Linked DNA regions of Homo sapiens. The protein of the gene in region 3 purifies or fractionates together with the protein of the main gene of each other region. This does not show direct contact. Each region holds a gene or a part of one and is shown on either strand. Other genes may lie near its edges.

The links. Proteins that work in one complex are often made in the same cells at the same time.
Region 1: the proteins of PPIL3 (region 3) and PLCL2 purify together in Homo sapiens (affinity purification with mass spectrometry; one large-scale study listed by BioGRID and IntAct). This does not show direct contact.
Region 2: the proteins of PPIL3 (region 3) and GPALPP1 purify together in Homo sapiens (affinity purification with mass spectrometry; one large-scale study listed by BioGRID and IntAct). This does not show direct contact.
Region 4: the proteins of PPIL3 (region 3) and ODF2 purify together in Homo sapiens (co-immunoprecipitation; one large-scale study listed by IntAct). This does not show direct contact.

The regions. Positions count from the first base shown.
Region 1 is NC_000003.12:17,017,180-17,020,954, reverse strand, and holds part of PLCL2 (inactive phospholipase C-like protein 2), read right to left. Parts: intron 1-3,775. UniProt on the Homo sapiens protein: May play an role in the regulation of Ins(1,4,5)P3 around the endoplasmic reticulum.
Region 2 is NC_000013.11:44,995,763-44,999,537, forward strand, and holds part of GPALPP1 (GPALPP motifs-containing protein 1), read left to right. Parts: intron 1-3,775.
Region 3 is NC_000002.12:200,878,794-200,882,844, reverse strand, and holds part of PPIL3 (peptidyl-prolyl cis-trans isomerase-like 3), read left to right. Parts: intron 1-409; coding exon 410-503; intron 504-1,356; coding exon 1,357-1,424; intron 1,425-4,051. UniProt on the Homo sapiens protein: PPIases accelerate the folding of proteins. It catalyzes the cis-trans isomerization of proline imidic peptide bonds in oligopeptides. May be involved in pre-mRNA splicing.
Region 4 is NC_000009.12:128,465,731-128,469,505, reverse strand, and holds part of ODF2 (outer dense fiber protein 2), read right to left. Parts: intron 582-3,775; exon of another isoform or gene 324-581; coding exon 153-323; intron 1-152. UniProt on the Homo sapiens protein: Seems to be a major component of sperm tail outer dense fibers (ODF).

The DNA of each region.
Region 1 (3,775 bases), on a different chromosome or scaffold from region 3:
CTCCATTAATTATGAAGTGTGATTTATCTCTTCACTGAATTAAGAAGTAACAAGAAAAAGTATATGACACCATACCAACAACTTAACCCAGAATGTTCATGATGCTGCATGTCAACTGCCAACATTTCTGTGTAAGGAAAAAAACCTTCATTTCACATATTTTATTTAAATAACCTTGTTTTATTTAAGAAATATTTAAAGTCATGTGTTAGAAGAGACTACTCAGCAACTTAAATAAAAACACTCAGAGAGAGCAAATAATATCCTCCCAGACAAAGCATCTTGTTCTTCCCTTTAAAAAGTACTATTTTCTACTGGGGAAATGGATTCCTCAGAGTATGCTTTCTTAATTAAACCTGAAGGCAATTAAAATCAAGACTTTTGTGAAGTTGCAAAAAAAAATGACTGAAAAAATTAATTTCAAAGGGAAAGTACAGAGAATGGAACTGCAATGACAAGAATGAATTCACGTATAATCTCTGAACAGGTGGGGCTGCCCATTTGCTGTGTATGTGAACCACCGTACTGCCTGTAAGAGAGAGATGGGCTTCATTTTCTTTATTTTTTTCCTCTTCTCTCCTTTTTCCTCTCTACAACTTCAATTTAATTACAATGACTAAAGCATAGTCCATGACAGAAAAACTGCAGCAAAATTAACAAAAAACTTTAGAAAAGAACTTACTTTTTATGTAATACGTCACAAAATATTTAAATTTTCAATGTTTTCTCTCTATAGAGGAAGAATGTTGACTCCTTGGTCTCTATATGTTAGTACAGGTCTCATAACAATTTTAAACATTCAAGTTTAAAACAGGTGGTAAATCTGCATCTAATAAAGATAGCTAGAGAATGGAATTATCACTCTCAACATAAAAAGAATAGTAAAAGTCACTTCAGTTTAAAAAGATGATGAATTAGATCACTTACATTGATGGGGGAGAGGAGATGCACCGAAATGCCAGTGCAAATCCATTCTTAAAAACACTGTGTACTATGAAGAGTATCCAGATATTCCCTAGAATCTCTTAAACTCAGGTTACATATTCCTTATTTTCTCTTACCAGCCCTTAATTACATGAGCGAACAAGCTCAATCTTGATCTTGATTGTCAATAGTGGGTGTATTCAAGCTCATTTATATATATTTTAAGTAAAATAAACTTTTGTTTTCTGAAATTATAAACAATGTGTTCAGACATTTATGATTGCATTTCTTTGAGTGGGATTTGATCTACTGATTACAGTTTTCTTTATTTTAAGTGCATTAAATCTGCCTTTTAATATATGTGAAAATGCAAAATGAAGAATTTTCTATCTTTATGGGGCACAAGAACAAAAAATAAGGTGCCTGTGACTTCAAGAGCCCCACATGAATAACTGTATATTATTATTATTACAGTTACTTGGGCTTTATTGCTACATTGATCATTCATCTACACATTCTATACAGTTAATTTTTCTGATCTGGATTGCAGAAAAAAATTGGACAGAGATACCACTTGGGTGCCAACCCCGGTTCTGCCATTAATTTGTTGTGCTACAGGGTTTCCATTTTCTCACGTGCAAAATAAAGGTGCTCAATAGGTGGTCTCTGAGTTCTATTTCACTCCAAGCCTCCCAGAGTCCATAATGCCTAATTCTGAGCATAGCCCTTTGCTCAAAAATGTGCAAGGACTCCCTACTATTTGTTACAGTCCAAGCCTGGATTTCCCAGAATATGTGCTTGAGCATATTTCACCTGTGAGCATGTTTCACCCTACGAACTCATCTTGCAATAGCCTCCTCTTTACCAGTTGAATTCCAACTCATTCTTACAGGTCTAGTTCAAGGCCGATGTTTCACTGAAGTCTTCCTAATCTCTGAACCTGAAACTAACCATTCTCTCCTTTGAAGATTCAAATAATTCATTTATATATTTTAAAATATCTATTTACTATCTATTGTCTATCATCTTATCAGTTATCTATAAACATACTGCAGCATCTCTTCAACTAAATTATAAGCTCCTCAAAGGAAAAAAAAAGTCTTTTTCATCTTTATATTACCTCATGTTGCCTACAATAGTCACTGGTACACAGTAGGCACTCAATAAATACTTGCTGTTGATGAGTGAGCAGTGCACGTGCTAAGAGCTTATAAATGGGTGTTGAATTCATCACCAAAAATACAGTAACTTATTTTGTATCTGTTTTATTGAAATAAACCAATTAAATTTCTATTATATGCCACTTCAAAACAACCAAACGTGACATCTTTAAAGCAAATCAATTATTTGGTTCAAAAGTTTGACCCTCTGACTTTATGGTCATGATGTATGATATAATCATGTATGCTGTCCAATGCAATAAATAAGGGGTTGTGGGCAAAAGCCCAACCACATGGCTTAATAATGGAGCCCAGGCCCCATCTGTTGAAAAAAAGTAGATAGGTATGAAAAAAGGGACTCAAGGGTCACTTCCATTAAGAGAGGCAGAGAGGACAAGCTGACTGGAGGAAGATGAGCCCTCACAGGTTGAGCCCCAAAATCATGGGATGAAGTACTTAAGGACACTGAGCTTAAGGGGACAAAGACGCCTCATTTAAATGCCCTGTAAGCCTCCATTTGCATGAGGCCCCCTTCCAGCCCTGCTACAATTTCCCTACCTAGGGTTGCTATGTGCAGCTTTTGTGCTCTAGGTTCTAGCAGGAGAGGACTCTAGGGCCCTTGCTCACCATTGGGAGGAAGAAGGGTCATCTGTGTGCCCCAGGCCTCCAGGCACAAGTTCAGCAGGTGCCTTCTATCCCACACTCATGTCTCTGACTCCAGCACTGCTAATAGGGTCATTCCCACTTTCCATCCCAGTCCAGTTCCTACTAAAACTCCCTTAATCTGCCTAGTCTAAGGAGGTGTGTGAATTTCTCTTCTTCTCCACTCCTGAATGGCTCTGATACCTGTCTTCTTGAGCTAGGTCCCAGGCTCACCCCACCACAGGAGCCACGAGAGCACCACAAGTCCTGTAAAAGCACAATTCTGGCAGTTTTCAAGGCCTGTTTGTTGGTAGTAATCACGGCAGCCATTAGGACAACGATCTGCATTCTCCGTTTTCACAAAGAAACTAGCACACTTCTGAAATACTATTTTATTAATACAGTCTAGATATTGAAAAGTAATCACAATCTTGATAGCATAAATACACATCTGTACATTTTAGGAGGTACCATGGCACTGTCCTCACAGGAAGACACACTTTAGGCATGTAGACTGGCCATGACACAGGAGTTCTGGAGGAGTTTCTCAACTTGCCTTTACTTCTCATTCGCCTCCATACATTATACATGGGAAGTCAACAGAATGAAATAAGATCTTATTTCTAAGGTTAATTTTGGGGCAAGCTCAACATAACATTACAAAAATAAAGAGCTATATTTAGAGTTACGGGCTGTCCGAGACCTTTAGTACATTTCCCATCAATATTTAATCTATTCTGGCTAGCTTTAATAAATTGTCACAAGGTAAGAAACCATTAAGTCACTAAAAAGAACTGCAAAATATTACAAGAGTTATAATATTGCTGCAGCCATAATTTAAATTTAATTTTAAATATTTTATTAGCTTATTTTATCAGATGGAATTAACAGAACATATCGATAAATTAGGCAGTATAAGGCTGCACAGCTATTTCAATTATACATTATAAAAGAGTAATTTTATAATTTAAAAATTTTAAGCAAGCTAGCATATTCTGTCTTGCCAAATCTATAACAACATAATGATACAGTTAGACGCAAATAAGAGT
Region 2 (3,775 bases), on a different chromosome or scaffold from region 3:
TGCCAACTCTGATTCAGGTGATCTGGGTGAGGCCTGAGATTCTGCATTTCTGACAAGCTCCCAGCTGCTGCTGCTGCTGCTGGTCCTGCTGGTGCCAAGACCACAGTGTTTGTGGTGAGGGATGGGAGCACACGTGGCTTTCTCTATCTGTAGTTATTGTGCTGGATTGTTTGCTGGTTTGCCCCACTAAACCATGAGGAAAGGAACCACGTCCTAAGCCTCTGTAATCCCCAATACTAGCAGGGTACCCAGCACAAAGTGGGTACTCAGTAGATTCCTTTTGGCGGAGTAGAGGACAGTAAAAATTCCTGGTCAGGCGCAGTGGCTCATGCCTATAATCCCAGCACTTTGGGAGGCTAAGGTGGGAGGATCACTTGAGCCCAGGACTTCAAGAACAGCCTAGGCAACATAGTAAGACCTCATCTCTACTAAAAATTTAAAAATTAGCCAGGCATGGTAGCATGCACATGCAGTCTCAACTACTTGGGGGGCTGAGGCAAGAGGATTGCTTGAGCCCAGGAGTTTGAGGTTGCAGTGAGCTGTGATCACACCACCGCACTCCAGCCTGAGTGTTAAAACAAGACCTTGTCGCAAAAAAAAAAAAAAATTCCTTAAGAGGGGCCCAGGATTTATGGGGGTTGGAGAAGCCAGGACCTGCATGAATACAGCTAACCATAATCCTTTGTATGGAGTCTGGAAGAAACCTAATGGCTGGCTGGGAACGGGATTTTTTTTTTTTTTTAAACAGCATCTCACTGTCATCCTGGCTGGAGTGCAGTGGCATGATCTCAGCTTACTGCAACCTCTGCCTCCTGGTTCAAGTGATTCTCCTGCCTCAGCCTCCTGACTAGCTGAAATTACGGGGATGCACCCTCACATCTGGCTAATTTTTGTATTTTTAGTAGAGATGGGGTTTCACCATGTTGGCCAGACTGGTCTGGAACTCCTGGGCTCAAGTGATCCATCTGCCTCAGCCTCCCAAAGTACTGGGATTACAGGCGTGAGCCACTGTGCCCAGCCTCTTTTTTTTTTTTTTTTTTTTTTTTTCCAGTTTTTAAAAATTGTGATAAAATACACATAACATGAAATGTACCATCTTAACCATCTTTAAATGTACAGTTCAGTGGCATTAAATACATTCAGATGATTGAGCAACTATTACCAACATATCCACATCTCTTTTCATCTTGTAAAACAGAAACTCTGTACTCACTAAGTAATAACTCCTCATTCCCCCCTCCAGCTCCTGACAAGCACCATTCTACTTTCTGTCTCTATGATTTGACTACTTTAAGTACATCATTTGAGTGGAATCATACAGTATTTGTCTTTTTTTTTTTTTTGGACTGGCTTATTTCACTTAGCATAATGTCCTTAAGTTTCATCCATGTGGTAGCAGGTGTCAGGATTACCTTCAAGTGAAGATTCCTGAATCCAGTCTGTTATCTGTCCTGTGTTCCTCACACTCTGCTGTCCCAGAAGGAGATCTGACAAGCATGACCAGAGTAAAGAGGAGTGAGGGAGCACACAGGTCTGAGATGGAACAAGTTAACTTCATTTGAATACTCTGAAAATTGACTGCTGGAAAATGTCCCCCAACGTCATGTCATTAGAAACCCTGGGGTGCAAATATTTTCTCAAGAGCGATCCACAGACTCCATATGCTGTTCTATGGAAGCTGAGTGGAGCCTTGGCCATTTTGACTCTAACTCCAGTCTCCTATCTGCAGTGACCTTCACCTCCACTAATTTCACCTACATTTTAAGCTGGAGTAGTGAGTCTACCCTACTCCAGCTCCAAAAACTCAAATTCAAATCTCATTCTCAGCAAGAACCCCTTATTCATTCATTGTTCTCACTCAAGTTACTCCCATTTCATTTGCTTTTTATTTTTGTTTTTTAACCTCATTGAGCCTTCCATCCCTAAGTACTTCTATCCCTAAGTACTTCCATCTGAGAGGAGTGCTTACATCCCTACTCCTGTTAGACTCCATGGTCCACCCATTCATCCACTCTCTTGCTGGTGCTCTCAACTGCTTTATCCCATTGGGTATTCTGCCAAACCCATCTAACAAAAGCCCAGCCCTGGATCAGTCCAAGTGTTTACCCCTTGTGAGCCTACAGCCAGGCTTCCTAATGCTGCTAGAAGAAACCTCACGCCTCCACAAGCTAATGCTGCTAAAAGATGGCCTGTTCCCTAACTGGGTCCATAGGTCTGTCCAGTAATCCTCACAGGCTTCACCTCCTTTCTCTTCCCCAATCTGCAACCTTGGCTTTTTAAAACTTTCCCTTTCTTTCTAAAACTTTTATTTTTCCGTCTACTTCATTGAACAAGTAGATGCCATCATAAGAGAACTTCCTCAATTTTCTGTTACTGTATCTAAAAACTATCCTAAATCCACGCCAAGCTTTTTGTCTGCCCTTTGGTAACAATAGAAGAGGTATACTGCTTCCTTCTAAAGCTAATCCTTCCATTTTTACTCTGACTCCCTTCCCTGTCCTTAGGGCTGCCTGCCCTTAGCATTTAACCAAAACATTCAAATCTTTCCCATCTTTGAAGAAAACTCTACTTCATATCCCCCTCTAGCTGCATCTTTTTCTTTCTCACTGTCTCTGGGTCTTCTATTTTCTCCTTAACCCATTGCATTTCTGCCCTCACCAGTCCACTGAGACCCTCACCAATTCAAGGCTTCCTTTTCAGTCCTAGTCTTCCTTGACCTCACAGCAACATTTGGCCCCTCTCTATCCTCTCTTGGTTCCAACCATCCTGAACACCTTTCAGTTTTCTAAATGTGATGACTCTTTTGCTTTCAGGCTTTTGCAGATGCTTTTCTTTCTGCCTGGACTACTCTTCGTCCAGTCCCCACCTTCTTTGCCCAGCTAACTCAGGTCCCACCCCTACATCACTGCTTCTAGGAAACATTCTTTGATGTTAACTACCTACTGCCTGTAAAAGATGGGTTGGGTGCCCCTTCTTTATATTTGCATGATTTAACCATGTCATGGGGTCAGCAAACTTTTCTTGTAAAGGACCAGATAGTAAATACAGTTGACCCTGTAGATCTGCAGGTTCTGAGTCTTCAGGTTCAACCAACTCTAGATTGAAAGTACAATATTCAAGGGAAGTGGAACCAAGGCCATAGCCACAGATTTTGGTAGCTGCAAACAGGGGAGTTGGTCCTGGAACCAATCTCCCGAGAATACCGAGGGACAACTGTACTTTTGACTGTAGGTCAGTAGGCAAAATCAAGATTATTGTAAAAGTATGTGTACAACAAGAAGGAAGCAAACTTCACAAAATTTTATTGTTGCAATCTAAAACATAATACCATATAATTTTTTTGTAATACAGGTCTACTAATGAGAAGAACAGAATTGGTTTTGGGGGAGTAACATTTCATTTCATCGGAGTTCAAGTTAGCATTCCTAGTCATCAGAATCAGTTGTGGATGTTCATCTGTTAATGCTGATCTGTAATGAGATTTTTATGTATTATACTGAGTTCATTTTTTTATATGCATATCACAATTCTGTGTGATATGAAAGGGAAATAAGTGAAATATAAGGAACGCGTAACTCCTGTTCTCATGGAATTTATAATCTATTTGGAAAATTATCATTGCAATAGGAGAGCCTCCTTAATGACGACAAGCATCACTGCTTTAGGAGAGATATGGAATAGTTCATTACATGTTCCCAAAATAATTTTTTGAGATTATTCATAGTTCAGAAGGATATCTATAAAAAAGTGAAGCCAGACATGTCCTTACTTTTAT
Region 3 (4,051 bases):
CACTGCAACCTCCGCCTCCCAAGTTCACGCCATTCTCCTCCCTCAGCCTCCAGAGTAGTTGGAGGCGCCTGCCACCACACCCAGCTAATTTTTTGTATTTTTAGTAGAGATGGGGTTTCACCATAGCCAGGATGGTCTCGATCTTCTGACCTCGTGATCCACCCACCTCGGCCTCCCAAAGTGCTGGGATTACCGGCGTTAGCCACCATGCCCGGCGAAAGATTTTGTATTTTATTTCAAGAGGAGAAGGAAGCTATTGAAGTGTTGTAGGCAGGGAAATGACATCCAAAGTAATGACAACAGTCATAGTTTAAATATGCTGCTATCACGTTTTCAGTAAATATGATTGGTTTTTTGTCTTAACTGGGTTTCTGCTGCATCATTTCTCAATCATTTTTACTCCCTTCAGAATTTCTTGGCTCTTTGTGCCAGTAATTACTACAATGGCTGTATATTTCATAGGAATATCAAGGGTTTCATGGTTCAAACAGGAGATCCAACAGGTAAGTTATTCCATTAACCAAGATCTAAGGAACTGAATGTATAGTATGAAGAAGTGGGTAAAAGAAGAGGAATTAAATACGTGGAGTTTTTGTTTTGTTTTGTTTTGTTTAATAAGTTCTGTTCTACAAGTACAGAACATGCAGGTTTGTTACATAGGTATATGTGTGCCATGGTGGTTTGCTGCACCTATCAGCCTGTCCTCTAGGTTTTAAGCCCAGCATGCATTAGCTATTCGTCCTAATGCTCTCCCTCCCCTTGCCCCCACCCACAACTAGCCCTGCTGTGTGTTGTTCCCCTCCTTGTGTCCATGTGATCTCATTGTTCAACTCCCACTTATGAGTGAGAATATGCGGTGTTTGGTTTTCTGTTCCTGTGTTAGTTTGCTGAGAATGATGGCTTCCAGCCATCCATGTCCCTGCAAAGGACATGATCTCATCCTTTTTATGGCTGCATAGTATTACATGGTGCAATTTTAAAGCAGAAATTATTAGCACCTACCCCTAAAATGTGAACAATATTGTGCTCACTTTGGCAGCACATATACTAAAATTTGAACAATACAGAGAAGATTAGTGTGGCCCCTGCACAAGGATGAGACACAAATTTGTGAAGCTTTTCATACTTAAATATATATGAACAATATTTATAAGGAGGGTTATTCTTTTTTGTTTTTTGTAGGTCTGTTTTAATCTTCAGGTCTGTGAAGTTAAATTTGGGGAATTAGGAAAGGCCATATCAAATTTTATCTATATTTAAGCAGTCAAACTATAAAGTATTCCTTAAGTTTTGGGAAATGAACTTGTTTTCAATTTAATTAAATACTTCTTTTGATTTGCTTCACTTGTAATGTAGGAACTGGAAGAGGAGGCAACAGTATTTGGGGCAAGAAGTTTGAGGATGAATACAGTGAATATCTTAAGGTAAATCCTCAATGCTTTAAAAATCTATTTCTCATGCCTTGGTTATGCATGGAAACTTTGATACATGTGTCATAGTGATACAAGTTAACATCATTGCAAAATGAACATACTTTTTTATAGTTTTTGTACATTTGACAAATGATGTCGGGGAGACTTGAGAAATGGTGATCCTAGCCTGACATGTGTACTGGAATCCCACCACCACGTGGCTCTTGATAGTAAGTGAGTTCATCTTTGAATCTAACCTGAAATGTTTAACTAGTAGTGTACCAAAGAGACTTAATATCTCACCATAAAATTCATGTTGAATGACATGAAACAGTGGCCTTTTTTGAGAGTGGGGAGGAAAGACTATCAAACTTCCTGGTTGCAATGTTGCCCATTATCAGTACCCAGCTTTTATCATCTTCTGTTAGATGTTTGAACATCCCTGTATTAATATGACTTAATACCTATGGTAGATCACAACTAGGTTAAAGAGTAGTACATATAAATAGTCTTTAACATGGTAAAATTAGGGATTTTTAATTTTCTTTGTTATATTTTTCTGTGTTTTTCAAACCTCTGTGGAGTCATTTTTTTTTTTTGTCTAAAATTAAAAATTAGTGCATGCCTAGTTTTAAAAATCAATCCCACTTCCCAGAGATAACTTCAGTTGATGACTTATTATGTGGTCTTTCAAACTTTGTATCTCCATAGAATGATAACTTTATGATTAGAAAAAGAGCAATGAAGTATCCTCAACCAGGGCCGGGTACAGTAATCCCAGCACTTTGAGAAGCCCAGTAAGGAGGATTGCTTGAGGCCAAGAGTTTGAAACCAGCCTGGGCAACATAGTGAGACCCCCATCTCCACAAAAAAATACAAATATTAGCCTGTTATAGTGGCGTGTGCCTGTAGTCCCAGCTACTCAAGAGGCTGAAGTGGGAGGATTGCTTGAGCCCAGGAGATCAAGGCTGCAGTGAGCCAAGATCATGCACAGAACGAGACCCCACTCAAAAAAAAAAAAAAGTCTACTCAATCAAAATATGCAGTTTAAGTGTATTATTATATTTCCATTACATTAAAATGTACCCACAAAAATTCTGAAAAAAATTCATTGCAGTGTTTATCTCTGGATGATGAGACTAGGAGTAATTTCTTTTCTTTTTGCTTTTTTTAAAACCTTTTTTTAGAGACAGGGTCTTGTTCTGTCCCCTGGGCTGGAGTGCAGTGATGCATTCTTGGCTCACTGCAGACTAAATTTTCTGGGCTCAGGTGATCCTCCCACCTCAGCCTCCAGAGTAGCTGGGACTACAGGTGCATGTCACCATGCCTGGCTAATGTTTGTATTTTTTGTACAGATGGTGTCTCACTATGTTGCCCAAGCTGGTTCATTTTACTTTTCTATTGTAAGGAAATGTATTAGTTTTGTTACAGGAGTTGAGGCTGGGAGGTGATAAACTTTTTGAAAAGTCAACTTTTTCCTGAATGAATAACTAAACAATTTTTTAGGTATTAATTATTACATTAATGACTGCTTCCATATACCAGCTGAAAACCAGAGACTGGCTATGACAGAATCACCTGTGGAACTTTGTTGTTTGTTTTTGAGACTGGGTCTCACTCTGTTGCCTAAGCTGAGTGCAGTGGCCTGATCACGGTTCACTGCAGCCTTGACCTGAGCTCAAGCAGTTTCTCCTGCCTCAGCCTCTCAAGTGGCTGGACCACAGGAGTGCACCACCGTGCCCAGCTAATTTCTGATTTTTTGTAGAGACGAGGTCTTGCTCTGTTGCCCAGTCTGGTCTGAAACTCCTGGACTAAGATGATCCTCCTGTCTTGGCCTCCCAAAGTGTTGGGATTATAGGAGTGAGCCACTGCACTTGGCTGGAAGTTTTAAAACTATAACAGATCATGGCCTTGCCCTCCTAAAAATAAAGTCAGTAGGGCTGGTTAGGACTTAGACTATATTTTAAGGTTCCTAGATGATTCTTTTGCAGGCAGAGTTAAGAACCATTATATAGGCCGGGCGCGGTGGCTCACACCTGTAATCCCAGCACTTTGGGAGGCCGAGGCGGGCGGATCACGAGGGCAGGAGATCAAGACCATGCTGGCTAACACAGTGAAACCCCGTCTCTGCCAAAAAATACAAAAAATTAGCCAGGTGTGGTGGTGGGTGCCTGTAGTCCCAGCTACTTGGGAGGCTGAGGCAGGAGAATGGCCTGAACCCGGGAGGCAGTGCTTGCAGTGAGCCGAGATCGTGCTGCTGCACTCCAGTCTGGGCGACAGAGCGAGACTCCGTCTAAAAAAAAAAAAGAACCATTATATTATACACCTTATACACCAAGATTGTGGATATGTATTGACTCTTCATATATTCTGGCCCAGGAATTCCATTCCCAAATGTTTACTCAAGAGAAACTTGTAAGTTTGCACCAAGAGACATGTACAGGAGTGTTCTGATGTACTGTTTGTAATAGCAAAAGTCTAGAAACAACCCAAATGTCCACTGATTGTAGATGAATCACTATGTAGATTGTGGATAAATTGTAGTATATTCAGTAGTGAAATATCACATAGTAGTAAAAAAATAGTAATAAACTATGGCTATATGTACATGTATAACCTTAGAAATGTAACAATGTTAT
Region 4 (3,775 bases), on a different chromosome or scaffold from region 3:
CCTCCCGGGGCAGGCAACTGAAGCCCGGGGCAACCCTGCAGAGGAGGCCTGAAGGCCTGCAGACGCAGGCTGAGGGACCAGGCAGGAAATCCACCTGGGTGCTCCTGCACATCCTCAGGGTAGTAGCTATCCCAGCCCCCTACCTCCCTCACCTCAGACTTCAGACAACCAACCGCATTCATTAGACTATCAATCTTCTTATCATAACGGTTCATTTTACAGTGACCTGAGTCATCATCTTCTGTAGAGAGGTCACTTAACCGCATCACTGAGACCAGCTTTTCTGAAGATGGTGGCGTGATCTCCAGGCAATGAGGTGGATTCTGATGTAGAGGAGGGAGAAACACATGAACTCAGAAGGCAGAACCTTGACCACGAGTTCCACCACTGGAGGCTTATTTACTGATTAGACGGGAAAAGCTGTAACAGCTAACTCGGGGACCCCAGGAAGAACATACTCTGAACCCTTGTGATGGAACATTACCTATCCATGTTTAAATGATGGTTTTGGAGAATTCCCAACATCAAAATTAAAAGCTTGGGCTACAATGTTAAGTTTAAAATAAAGAACATAGGCTGGATACCCTGTAAAACCAGTATATTGGGAGGCCGAGGCGGGAAGCCAAAACCAGCCTCAGCAACATAGCGAGACCTTGTCTCTATAAAAGTAAAAGAATTAGCTAGCGCTGGGCATGGTGGCTCACATCTGCAATCCCAGCGCTTTGGGAGGCTGAGGCGGGTGGATGACCAGAGGTCAGGAGTTTGAGACCAGCCTGACCAACACGGTGAAACCCCGTCTCTACTAAAAACACAAACTTAGCTGGACATGGTGGTGCATGCCTGTAATCTCAGCTATTCAGGAGGCTAAGGCTGGAGGATCGCTTGAACCCGGGAGGTAGAGGTTGCAGTGAGCCAAGATTGCGCCATTGCACTCCAGCCTGGGCAACAGAACGAAACTCCTTCTAAAAAAAAAAATCAGGTGGGTGTAGTGGCACATGCCTGTGATCTCAACTAATCAGGAGGCTGAGGCAGGGGATTCCTTGAGTCCAGGAGTTCAAGGCTGCAGTGAGCTATGATAGCACCACTGCATGCCAGCCTGGGTGACAGAGCGAAACCCTGTCTCTAAAAATAACAATACTCATAAAGAAATAATATAACAAATCAGCAAAAACATTAATAATACCCAAAGTTGGCAAAAGTTTAGGGCAGTACATTTTTTTATACCTAGGGTAGAAATGAAATATGTCAAAAGTCTTTTAAATGAATATGAATAGCTGATAGTGGATTAGTTACAAAGGTAGATGAATCTGCTGAAAAGGTATTGTAGAAACAAGTGGGTAAATTGGAAAAAGGACCAGATATTGTATGATATTAAGAAATGCTCTTAGGAGTAATCAGTTATTTTGATGATGTAGAAAAATATTATAAATGCACATGGTACAATACCTGGAAAGTATTGTATTAAAAAAATACAATACTTTTTAAATACGTCAGTATAAAAAATATTTTAGGGCCAGGAGCGGTGGCTCATGCCTGTAATCCCAGCACTTTGGGAGGCCAAGGCGGGCGGATCACGAGGTCAGGAGATCGAGACACTGAAACCCCGTGTCTACTAAAAATACAAAAAAATTAGCCGGGCGTGGTAGCAGGTGCCTGTAGTCTCAGCTTTTTAAATATTTTTTTAAATATTTTAAAATGCATATATGCTTCAGGAAACTTTATGCAAAGCTGTAAACACTTTGCTTTTTTTTTTTTTTTTTTGAGACAGGGTCTCACTCCATCGCCTAGGCTGGAGTGCAGTAGTGCCATCTCGGCTCACTGCAACCTCCGCCTCCCAGGTTCAAGCAATTCTCCTGCCTCAGCCTCCCGACTAGCTGGGATAACAGGCACCTACCACCATGCCCAGCTGATTTTTGTATTTTTAGTAGAGGTGGGGTTTCACCATGTTGGCCAGGCTGGTCTCGAACTCCTGACCTCAGGTGATAAGCCCGTCTTGGCCTCCCAAAGTGCTGGGATTTCAGGTATGAGCCACCACATCCAGGTATGTATATTACTTTTAGAAGAAAAGAAGTTACTTTTAATACTTAAAATGACAAAAATAGGAAAATGTATAAACAGTCATGTGCCACGTAACATTTCAGTCAGCAATGGACTGCATATATGACAGTGGTCCCAAAACACCGTATTTTTACCGTACCTTTTCTATATTTACTATGTTTCAATATGCAAATACTTACCATTGTGTTAGTTGCCTACAGTATTCTGTACGGCATCATGCTGTAGAGGTCTGTAGCCTAGGAGCAATAGGCTATACCATACAGCCCAGGTGTGTAGCAGGCTTTACCAATCTCGGTTTGTGTAAGTACACTCCATGATGTTTGCACAATGATGAAAGTGCCTAACAACATGTTTCTCAGAATATATCCCCATTGTTAATTGATATATGACTATATATATATATATATATATATATATATATATATATATATATTTTTTTTTTTTTTTTTTTTTTTTTTTTTTTTTTTAATTGAGATGGAGTCTCGCTCTGTCACCCAGGCTGGAGTGCAGTGGTGCAATCTCGGCTCACTGCAAGCTCCGCCTCCCAGGTTCACGCCATTCTCCTGCCTCAGCCTCCCGAGTAGCTGAGACTACAGGTGCCCGCCACCATGCCCGGCTAATTTTTTGTACTTTTAGTAGAGACGGAGTTTCACTGTGTTAGCCAGGATGGTCTCGATCTCCTGACCTTGTGATCCGCCCGCCTCGGCCTCCCAAAGTGTTGGGATTACAGGCGTGAGCCACCACGCCCGGCCACATGACTATATATTTTTTAAAATGACAAATATATATATATATATATATATGGGAAAGTGTGACTACTTACTCCTTGTGATGGGGAGGGAGTGACATAGACAAAAGCCAGGGGCAGCTTCTAGGATGCTGGGTGATCGTTACACAGGTACCTTCAGCTTGTGAAAATTCATGGAGCAATACACTTCTGATGGGTGTACATCCCTGCACTTTTCCATTTTTTTTTTTTTTGAGATGGGGTCTCACTCTGTCAAGCAGCCTGGAGTGCAGTAGCACAACTTTGGTTCACTGCAACCTCTGCCTCCCAGGCTCAACCCATCCTTACACCTCAGCCTCCCAAGTAGCTGGGACCACAAGTGCACACCACCACACTGGGCTAATTTTTTGTATTTTTGGTAGAGATACGGTTTCGTCACATTGTCCAAGCTGGTCTCCAACTCCTGAGCTCAGGTGAACCGCCTGCCTTAGCCTCCCAAAGTGCTGGGATTACAGGCGTGAGACACCAGGCCCGGCCAGTCCTCTTTTCGTTTTTCTTTTCCGTTTTTTTTGTTTTTTTTTTGAGATGGAGACTCGCTTTGTTGCCCAGGCTGCAGTGCAGGGGCGCGATCTTGGCTCCCTGCAACCTCCGCCTCATGGGCTTAAGCAATTCTCTTGCCTCAGCCTTCTGTGTAGCTGATATTGGTGGCGCGACCACCACGCCAGGGTAATTTTTGTATTTTTAGTAGAGACGGGGTTTCGCCATGTTGGCTAGGCTGGTCTCAAACTCCTGATCTCAGTTGATTTGCCTGCCTCGGCCTCCCAAAGTGCTGGGATTACAGGAGTGAGCCATTGCTCCTGGGCCTGTACTTTTCAACAAGAAATTTTGAAACTTAATAGCAGCCAGAATTGAGTAGCTGATTATTTTTCTGTATTTTCAAATTTCCCTAAATAAAAATAGATCACTTTTTTTTTTTTTTTTGAGACGGAG